Linked DNA regions of Homo sapiens: region 1 is linked to region 2. Evidence: fine-mapped expression QTL. A gene starts in region 2. The other region holds a variant in brackets. All regions are shown on one strand. Distances are from middle to middle.

Region 1 (5,384 bases), 75 kb after region 2:
CTGGTGGCCTTTTGGTTTCTGATTTCAAGCATCCTGAAGCTGGCTTAATTCCTGCCATGGTTTGGTTAACATAAGCCAATAAATTACTCTTTTTGCCTTTGCTGGCTAGTGTTTCTGACACATTAGTCCTGACTAATGACAACAGGAAGATAATTAACTCTGATTTTGATATATTACATTTGAAAAGACTTCTCTAGATGGCAAGGAGCTCAAGAGAAAAATCATGGCTAGAAATATAGATGTAAAAGCCACCTTTAGATAAGTGGTTGTTAAAGCTATAGAAGTGGCTTCTATAAAGCTATAGAAGTTCACCCAGGATAAGTGTGGAAAGTGTTGAGAGGCCAAGGATGGAACCTTGAAGAATGCTAATATCCAAGAATATGCAGAAGAGGAGGAAGCAGCTGTTTCTAACTCGTACCATTTCTGATGTTAGCCAGCCCTTCCAATCTTACAGCCCTCAGTGGGAAAAAGGTAGTCTATTAGAATTCATTATCGTGTCCCTAGCTTTGGGAGTTTTTTTTTTTTTTTTTAAACTGCTCTAGGCCACATCTGAAATCTGCCTCATATAGCTCTCAGTCATTGGAGTAAATATAAGCTTCCCCAACATATTCCTTCCTGTATTTAAAATCTAAGATCTTATAACCAAATGTCTTCTCTTCTTCAGTATTAAATCCCTCCCTTCTTTCAGCCATCCCTCGTCTGATAAATTGTCAAATTGTATTGATGTCTTTTAAATATCTCTCCATGTTGCTTATGAAGGGTGAAATCTGAAACAGATACTGTATTTGAGCTGTAATGTGACTATCACAGAGTACAGTGGAACTAATGTGTCTTCCTGATATTAACCTCATACTGGTTGCACTATTGAGGAATATTGCACTTGTCACTAACAAAAAAATCACAGATTTTTTTCTAAAAATTTCTAGAAGCCCAGAAAAATAGAATCTATAATTATATGATTGAAGTTTTGAGCCTAAACAAAGGCCTTTACATTTGTCCCTGTTAAATTATTTTTTATACAAAAGGATAATTACTGTAGCCTAACATGTGTGTAAATAATTAGAAGCAACATACCTGGCCAAAAATAAGGTAATATTAAATATAAACACAAGATGGAATATCATGTGTCTGTGAAAATTATCTTTGTGAAGAATATTTAGTGACATGAGAAAGTGCTTAGGGTATAATGTTAAGAAAGTTGCAGGGTTTAAACCATATGTAATAAATTGCAAAAGTCTTTTCACTGGGAAAGGGAGTGTGACTCAGACATAACAGAAGCAATGTCCCTGTTAAATTTTATCTTATTGGTATTAACCCGTTATCCCAGCTTCAAAAAAAATTTTTTATCTTAATTCTATTACCTAATTATTAGTCATTCCTCTCTCCTTTGTGCTGTCCAAAAATTGGTCTACCAAACAGGACATAAAAGTGTTTATACTATTGGGCAAGTATAGAGGTCTGCAGTAAATATCCAGGGATGCACTTGAATTTTGGGTTACAGTAACCATACCTGGATATATTATTTAATCACTAGATTACTCTTTAGCAGGATATTATTAGAAAATACATTCAGACTGAAAGGCTTCTTAAAAGATCATTTCATCCCATCTCCACACCTCTATTCAGATTTGGTATTATATTTTTTTAGGAAGAACATTGTCCTAGTTTGGGCCACTGTAACAGAATACCACAGACTGGGCAGCTTAAATGGAAAGTTATTTCTCACAGACCTGGAGGCTGGGAAGTCCCAAATCAAGGTGCCTGCAGATGTGATTACCTCCCAAAAGTTTCACCTCCAAATACTGTCACATGGGGGATAAGATTTCAACATAGGAATTTGGGGGCATTTAGCCTGTAACAAATGTTATTGCCCAAGATTCCCATCGGTTGCCAAAAGTCAAAAGTCCTGAATTCATTGTGTACCTTGGTATATGATTTTGACCAAGAAACTTAGCCAAGACTCTTGCTTTCCTTATCAGCAAAATGAGATTTGCTGTACATGAAGGTCCCCATGTCAGTCTGGTCTGAGGAGACAAGCTACAACACAAACAAAAATGGGATTTGCTGTATGTGAAGGTCGATTAGAACAAAGGCCTTTTTAATCTTAAAGGTTAAG[T/C]GCATGGAAAGAACCTCTGATGGAAATCAAGGAGTACTGACAGCACGATGTGGAAAATAAGAGAGAAAAGAAAAAAAGGAAGATGGAAATTCTGACAAGGAAATTAAGATGCATGTCCATGGATGTTTTTTGTTTTGATGATAGCAAAAGAGTGATATATTTGCATAACAATGTAAGTATTGTTTGTACTTAACAAAAATCTAGTTTCCTTTCATAGAGTTCTTAAAGGACAGAAAATATTTATCTGTCTGAACACCATTAGACAGGTAAATGATGAATGAGTTACCACTGAATACCTCTTGAAAGCTGATGTCTGTCAAATGTTGAACTTCTGGGAGAGAAGTATAACAAAATACAAGGAAGCTCAATGGTCAATATTTGCAAATAACAAAGTACTCCTTAGATTGGAAGTTACTACCTTAGCAATGGGCAATATTACCCCAACAATATTAAGTACTGTGTGGTTTAATATTACTACAATTTGAGGCATATTATCTAAATGATTTAAGATGTGATTAATTGTTTCCAGATTTTTACCCAGTGCTGTGGTTTGAATGTTTCTGTGCCCTCCAAAATTCACATGTTGGAAACTTCATCATCAATACAACAGTTGGGAGGTAGGACCTTTCGGAAGGTGTTTAGGATTAATACTGCTATAAAAAGCACTCTAGGTAGTGGGTTTGCTCTCTCCTGTTCTTCTACCTTCTGCTATGTGAGGACACAGCAAGAAGGCCCCTACCGGATGCTGGCACCTTGATCTTGGAATTTCCAGCTTCCAGAACTGTGAGAGAACTGTCAGGTTTGTTGTTGTTGTTGTTTGTTTTGTTTTGTTTTTAATAGCAGCACAAAACAGGCTAAGATACTCAGGATTTGTTTTAATCAGGTACGATAAGGTGACAGACACAGAGTTTGAAAGAAGTTTTCTTTCTTATACTTAAGAGAAGGATCCATGCCATGCCCTTGCAGGGCCACATGGGGGAAGTATCAGGGTCAGTCAGGAGGCAGAAGGAGGTGAGAGGGGAAAGCATGGCCCAGAGCATTTATTGTGGTTTTCCAGGGAAGTAATGGATGAGACAAGAAAGGCAAATATGAGGAAGTTTGGGGGTTGGATAGTAGTTCTGGTAATTTCAGCAGGCCCTGGATTATAAAGGTGGTCTCTGGTTGTTTGACACCTGGTCCTGGGGTGATTTAGGTCAGGGGAAATACTGGCTTGCTGTATGAGAGTTAGATAAAGTTGTGGTTGGAGATACGGCCTTTGGATTGTTTGGTGTGCGTATGAAAGACACCCTCAGCAGAGTCCTTTGCTGTCTAGGAATTAGCCGGCCCTGGGAGGGCCAGTCTGTCCCTGGCCAACAGAGCACTACAAAATTTAGAAAATAAAAAGTATGATTAATACATAAATAAGTGTATCTTTTTAAATAACTGACAAAATGAGATAAAATTAGTTAGGACTGAACTAAAATACAGTCTTTATTTCTCACTTTACTCCTCATTTTGCCGCCTGATTCTCCCTAAGAAGATCACTGTCTGGATAGGGCACAAATTTCTCTTGTCCTCTGCAACTGAAGTTTTGGGATGAACGCCTGTGGGTGACGGTAGTGATGTCGTGTTCCCAGGATGCATCATACTCTATTTACTGTCCTTGGGAGAAAATCACTGACTGCCTTGCAGCTGCCTACCCCAACATCTTGTCCATGGCCAAAGGCAACTTCACGGTCCTCTGTGTCACCACATTCCCACAGGAACCCATTTGCTGGGAAAATGAAATACAATGTCTGCATCTTTTGTTTTTTCAGTCAGCCCACAATGGATAATGAATCCAGACCTCAAGGGCAACTTAATGACAGTGTCCAACCCCTGAGAGGGTTATTATGCAGAAGTTGGGGGCCAGCTGCTCTCCATCTTCTTTGAGAACAGACAAGAGGAATTGGATTTAAACCATGGCACAAGATGTGTCAGTTAGACATTAGAAAGAATTGCCTGTCACAGTTTGAGGCATGGAATTGGTGACCAGGGACAGCTATGAAACTGCTTTTCTTGGGGACTTTTAATGAAGGAAAGACTGGCAGATGGATGAGGCAACCTGCCAGGGTAGGTGTGACATAGAAACTACCTTTTTGATCTCCCTCCAGGAGTACATGTGCTTGTCCTTAGAACCACTCTCTCATAAGTCTTAGCACAAGATGGGTTCGTACCTTATCTGCCCTACTAGACTCTAGCAATCTTTAGGCAATGACAATGTCTAGCATGGTGCCTTGCACACAATTGACGTTCAAGAAAGATTTTTTGCATGTGTGAGAATGAATTAAGATGATATTTGTCTTTGAAATACCTCAATTCCTCACCTTCCTCTTTTCCACCCTCTTTTTTATTCAGCACCCTTTCTATCCCAGGTGATCTCCAAAGTCTCTTCCAACTCAGAAATTTTAGTAGTCTGGGTTTACTTATGTTGTTAGTATACCATTTTTACCTTTCTTTAGAAAGATAGGTCTTATGAGTCACACACGAATGTTCCTTAATAACAGAATAATGATTTCTAATTATATACATTATTTCAATTAACACTGAAATAATGGACTGGTGTCCATCAGTGGACTGGGCGTCATCAACCGAAGTTTGCAAATAAGCAGTCTAAAGCTAAGATTGTGACCTGTCGAAGCTTAAATAGCAAAGAAGGATGTAAACTCACATCTGTCTGACCCCAAAGCCCAGCACCTAGACACAGTGGGTTTTCTTACTCAGGAAAATACAAAACTTAAAAAAGATTCTAAGGAGGAGAGCCCAAAGACATTAGTATCCAAAAAGAGAATAGCAAGCCCTGCTACTGGAATGAGTGAGACATAAATTGGGCTGTATGAGGAACTGAAAACCTCAGCTACATGTAAGATCAGCCCTGGCATCCCAGCTGCTTAGTCCTCCCTGCCTCGATCCCAACTACTGCTTAGTGCCTGCAAAACGCAGGCAGTTCCCCAGGTTGTCTGTTAGGGTGGGAGGTTGTCAGGTGCCAGAATCTATAGAGGCACTTAGGGCCCGGATATCTGAGCTTATGTTACTGCTCTGCAACCTGGGGACTCTAGCATTTCATCTACCTGAAGAGTTAATTTTCATCCCTCCCTTTCTGGCCTCTGAACCACTGGAAATAGGATCTCTCTGTCAACAGTGCCTTTGACTGTTTATTTTCCACTTCTCCAGTTGCATTTTGTTCTCAGCTTGGATCATTAACCCACGGTGTGGAAATTTTGATCAGACTTGGATCCTAGAGGACCAA
Region 2 (5,384 bases):
CCTGCTTTGTAAAAATTCGCTTCCAACTTCAAGGAAGAGCTAGTTCCTAAATTACTTAAACTGCTACTGTTCATTCTTCAAGGCTAGCATTACTCTGATACCAAAACTTGTTACAGACAAGCACAAAAATCAGTAACAATGGACCAATTTTATTAATTATAAATACATTTTAATCCTAAATAAAAGATTAACAAATCAAACCCAGCATGGCTTTCATTTGATCAAAAAATAATAGAACATGACAAAGCAGAGTTTATTTCAGAAATGTAAGAATGTGTTGAACACTAGGAAATCAATGAGCATAATTCATTATATAAAAGAGTCAGAGTAAAAAACAAATATAGTGATAGAGGCTAAGAGACAGTTGGTAAAATTTTGCACTCTTTCCTGATTTAACAGCATGTAGTAAAACAGGATAGAAGAAAATTTCTTTAAAGATGATAGTGTATTTTCAGAACACCAACTAGCAGGCGCAGTGGCTCACGTCTGTAATCCCAGCACTTTGGGAGGCTGAGGCGGGTGGATCACCTGAGGTCAGGAGTTCGAGACCAACCTGGCCAACATGGTGAAACTCCATCTCTTCTAAAAATACAAAATTAGCCAGGCATGATGGCATGTGCCTGTAGTCCCAGCTACCCGGGAGGCTGAGGCAGGAGAATTGCTGGAACCCAGGAGGCAGAGGTGGCAGTAAGTCCAGATTGTGCCACTGTATTCCAGCCTGGGCGACACAGCGAGACTCCAGCTCAAAAAAAAAAAAAAAGAATACCAACTAGCACTAGCACCAAATGGGCACATGCTTGCCTTACTGCATTAAAGCTGGATATCCATTATCTTGTCCTGTAGTCTTAAACATTTTTCTGATGTTTTGACCAATGCAATAGGAAGAAAGAAACGCATTATTTGCAGGTGATAATGATTGTCTGTGTACAAATTCATAGAGATGAGCTGTCAAGCTATTAGAACTAACAAGACATTTTTTCATAGTGTGGTAGGATACAAGGTAAATAAACAAAAGTCAATAGCTTTCCTAAATTACAGCAATAAGAAATATCTCACTTACAAAAAAACTATAAAATATCTAGGAACAAACTTCCCAAGGATTATGCAAACCTATGTGATTTTTTTTTTTTTTTTACAGATGCTGATGCAGATCTGAAAAAAAATTGTTAATGCATCTAAAGATACAGAAAACAAGTATTTCTGAATGGAAAGACCCATGATATTGAAAATTTTGAAAAAGAAGAGAATTAGGAGAGGTTCCTTTATGAAAAGGCAAATATATTAAATATGTAATGATTATAACTGTGGCATATTTTAGGAATAAGCAGATAATTAATAGAGGAGAATGTTCAGAAACAGATATATACGTGTATGTATACCTATGTATATGTATATGCAAATTTAGGTTGTAATTAACAGTGGCACTTCAAAGTAGTGAGGAAAGAATATTCACTAAATGACATGGGGGCAACTGGTCAACCATTTGGCAAAAATAATCTCTTAGTAAACTATTTTATTTCCAGGAATTAATTCCAAGAAGTAAATGGACAAATGTGAAGAAATGCCTGTTGAAGGATTTTTTTGGGATAGTGAAAAATAGAAAACCACTCAAACGTCTATTCAGTAGATTATTTCAAATGTGTGTGTCTATTTGTGTGTACGTAGTATACGCATAAGTTATGGAATGCCATGAGTCTACTTTAAAATATGGCCGGGTGCAAGATGGCTCACACCTGTAATCCCAGCACTTTGGGAGGCCAAGGCAGGTGGATCACCTGGGGTCAGGAGTTCGAGACTGGCCTGGCCAACATGGCGAAAACCTGTCTCTACTAAAAATACAAAAATTCGCGGGACGTGGTGGCGCACATCTGTAATCCCAGCTACTCAGGAGCCTGAGGCACGGGAATCGCTTGAACTCGGGAGGCGGAGGTTGCAGTGAGCCAAAATGGCGCCACTGCGCTCCAGCCTGGGCGACAGAGCGAGGTTCTGCCTAAATAAATAAATAAAATGATGAAACAGATTTAAACTTAATGGAATGGAAGGATAGCCACATAATCTTTAAAGTGAAAAAAAAATCAGGTTCTAAATCTATAGGTATTCTTTGATTACATTTTTTTCAATGTGTAGAGGCATAGAAAAGTCCAGAAGGATCTATAATGAGCTGTTTAATTTTCATTTCCTATGGGGTAGATCCTTTGTTGCATGGAAGATTATTTCACTCTGTTAGCTCTCTTTACATCAGTAGGAATACATCCTCATGGTTTTAAACATCTTGAGGGAGCTTTCCTGACACTCTACTCTAGGTAAATATGCTCGCATAGCACTCTCTATTCACCATATTACCTATAAATCATATTGCACTTTTTAACTTTTCTAAACTACTTTTTGCTTTCTTTTCTAGATTATAAAATCTTGAGGGCAGGGATAGTATGTAAAGGTTCCCTTGTGAGCAAATAACCGTCACTTATTGAACTCTGTGTGCCAAATACTGTGCTAAATGCTTTCAATAATCTCACTCATAGGGAGATATTACTACCATCTCCATTTTGAGGATGAAGATATTGAAAGATTATGAAGTTTCTCCCAAATGCCATTGCCAGGCCTGTGTGACTCTTGGTCGTTACACGGTGATCAATAAAAATTTGTTTCATAGGAAAGAAATACAGCCAGCCGTGGCTTTAAGATCACTGGGTGATACAGTTGGACCAGAAACCCTTTAAACTCCTTCGTCAGACACAGACTCGCAAGCCCCGCCCAGGACGACCGCCCGCGCGCGTATGGATAAGCGTGCAGGGGCGGGGCGAGCTTGTAGGAGTGGGGCGGAGACAGATCTGACTGGCCAACGTCGGGCGGAAGTCGGGAGGTTGGGTGGTCTGTAAACGCTGGCTTGTGACAGGGAGGGGGAGGAGGAAGGCCTTCGTAAAGGTTGCATCTCCGTCCCTTCGCTCCCGGGGACCCGCGGGAAAAAAAAAAATCCAACACCCAGGCCCCGCGGCTAGCCCCTTCCCACAGGCTCTCTCCGCTCGATTTTGTCACCGTTATGTGGGAAGCGAATCCAGTGAGTAGCCGGGCGGGACGGGGCGGGCCCAGGGGGCGGGGTTGATGAGAGAGGGGCGGGAGGGGGTCACCGGAACTGCTTCCCCGCGCTCGCTTCAGTCTGGGTGTTGAGTTCCGGGACCGGAGTTCCCGGGCCTTTTGGCTTCTGTAGTCTGTACCTTTTTAAGCAGTGGAAGTGCCTGGGTGGATTCTCCAATGCTTTATTGTTTTCTTGTTACAATTATTTATTTTACTTCCCGTGATGTTTCAGCCTCATCCCTTCACCATTTGTTGTTGTTGTTGTTTTTGAGACGGAGTCTCGCACTGTTGTCCAGGCTGGAGTGCAGTGGCGTGATCTCGGCCCACCGCAACCTCCGTCTCCCGGGTTAAAGCGATTGTCGTGCCTCAGCCTCCCGACTGCCTTCACTGTTTTTTGAAACTTTGTGTTTTGCTTTCTAATTGGAGTAACTGGCCTTGGAACCTGTAGTCAGTCATTTGCCTCAGGTTTACCTGCCAGTCCCACCAGTCTAAAGCAAGGGAATTGGGACCCCCTTGTCTTGAATGGGCCTAAGAGGAGCCATCAGTTCTCCTTTTCCCTTCTTGGTGGACAGTCGTTTAAAACTTGGAGTATGGACTGTATGTTCTTAGATGTTTTCGTTCGGTGGACAAAGTGATCTGGAGCATTTCAACTGCAAGTCTGCCTTCTTCCTTGGCTGACTCTGGTATTTTCATTATGACTTCATGTGTCTTTGTCTACTTTGCTTTTATACATTTATTTATTTAAAGTGCAACGTAGGGGCCGAAAACTTTAGTACCTTTCCTCACCACCCATTGTAAGGATCACAGCCACCACTCCTTAAAACAGAAGATAGGTTAACAAGGTAAAAGCAGAGCAAATCTAATCAAAGTTTTACACCACCAGGCACTTCAGAGACCAGGGAGATCTCTATTTTTATGCGTAGGACCCATGAAGAATAGACAACTGTGTAAAAATGTGACTGGACAAAGGATATACTCTAATGTTAATAAACTGAGGAAGGAAGCCCAGCAAGGTCTGTTTGTTCAGATTCTTCTTGGCCTCTCTGTGTATCATTTCTTCCTCCTACGGAGGAGGAAGGTCCCTTCTGGAATGAGGGTCTTAGCGACCTACTATCAGGCAAGGTAGATTAGAGAATTTCTTTATGGCCAGTTCCTATAGACAATGGCAGGGAAAGCTTAATAGTTCCAGTTTTTATGGCTTGCTTTGTAGGAGAGGGATCCTAGTTTCTATCACTCACCTTGGGGAAGAATTCTGGTTTCTGTGACTCACTTCTGGGACGAAAGATGGGCAGGAGACAGAAGGGCAGGAGATCAGAGGGAGAGACTGCTTCCGAGGCTGCTTCTGAGGCCTTCCAATCTCTTTTAGTTCAAAGTATTCAGCATGCCAAAGTGTCATACTTCGGGGTAGTATTTTCTGAGCCCCAACACAACCCTCAGAGAGTGGGATCTATTTGCCAAGAGTATTCTTCTGTTGTTATGGTTGAAACTGCCTGGTAAGGTGGCAGATGTATGGTATTTAAAACTTAGGAGTTGACTGGAAAAATGGTAGAATCACATTTCAGCAAGTTGTTGGACTAAATACAGTCGTGCGCCTCCTAACAATGGGGATATGTTCTGAGAAGTTCATTGCTGGGTGATTTTTTTCATTGTGCCAACGTCATAGAGTGTACTTTCATAAGCCTGCTACACACCTAAGGCTATATGGAATAGCCTATTGCTCTTAACCTAGAAATCTGTACAGCATAGTATTGTACTGAATACTGTAGGCATTCGTAACACAATGGAAAGTATTTATGTATCTAAACATAGAAAAGATACAGTAAAATAAAGTGTTAACAATCTTTGGGACCACTTGTATATGCGATCCATGGTTGACTGAAAGCTTTTATGCAATGCATAATTGTGTATGAAACATAAGAAACTACTCCTATGCTGAGATAACTGCATAAATTTACTTTAATAACCCCTAATTTCCATATTTGCAATAATTTCCTATAATCAGTATTCTTCCCCTCTCATTTCTGGAATATATTTCCAGATAAGTTAGAAAGTTTATCAGTACATTTCCCTATGTTTTTAAGTTAAGTTTTTATCCAGTAGAAACTAGTCTGTTGGTCTGGATTTGGTAGTTGCACATTATGGTTCCTTCTTGTGCATCATATAACAATAGTCATCATCTTAGTATTTTCGATTCATACGTATAATACTCTCTTCAAGCTGCATTAGAGGAAAGTAATTACTTGTATTTGATTTTAGCAAAAATAATTTAGAATAATGAGAATGTGCTCTCTGCTTATATATTCAGTTTC

Evidence for each region. PIP is the estimated chance that this variant, and not a neighbour inherited with it, causes the effect.
Region 1: its variant is the best candidate, but not a certain one, in a credible set for the expression of PARP11 in whole blood (INTERVAL, PIP 0.56).

Annotation. Positions count from the first base shown.
Region 1 is chr12:3,795,563-3,800,946 of GRCh38, reverse strand. No RefSeq gene overlaps it. Among named protein-coding and RNA genes, the nearest start is that of CRACR2A, 45 kb to the right of the region's middle. The variant T/C (reference allele first, on the strand shown) is at 2,117.
Region 2 is chr12:3,870,886-3,876,269 of GRCh38, reverse strand. PARP11 (poly(ADP-ribose) polymerase family member 11) reads left to right here and starts at 2,871. Exons shown (of 8, transcript NM_020367.6): 1 at 2,871-3,058. The coding sequence starts at 3,041. It overlaps PARP11-AS1 (PARP11 antisense RNA 1), which reads right to left. Exons shown (of 2, transcript NR_183432.1): 1 at 4,314-5,384. RefSeq lists enhancers at 1,382-1,901, 1,902-2,422 and a silencer at 3,094-3,203.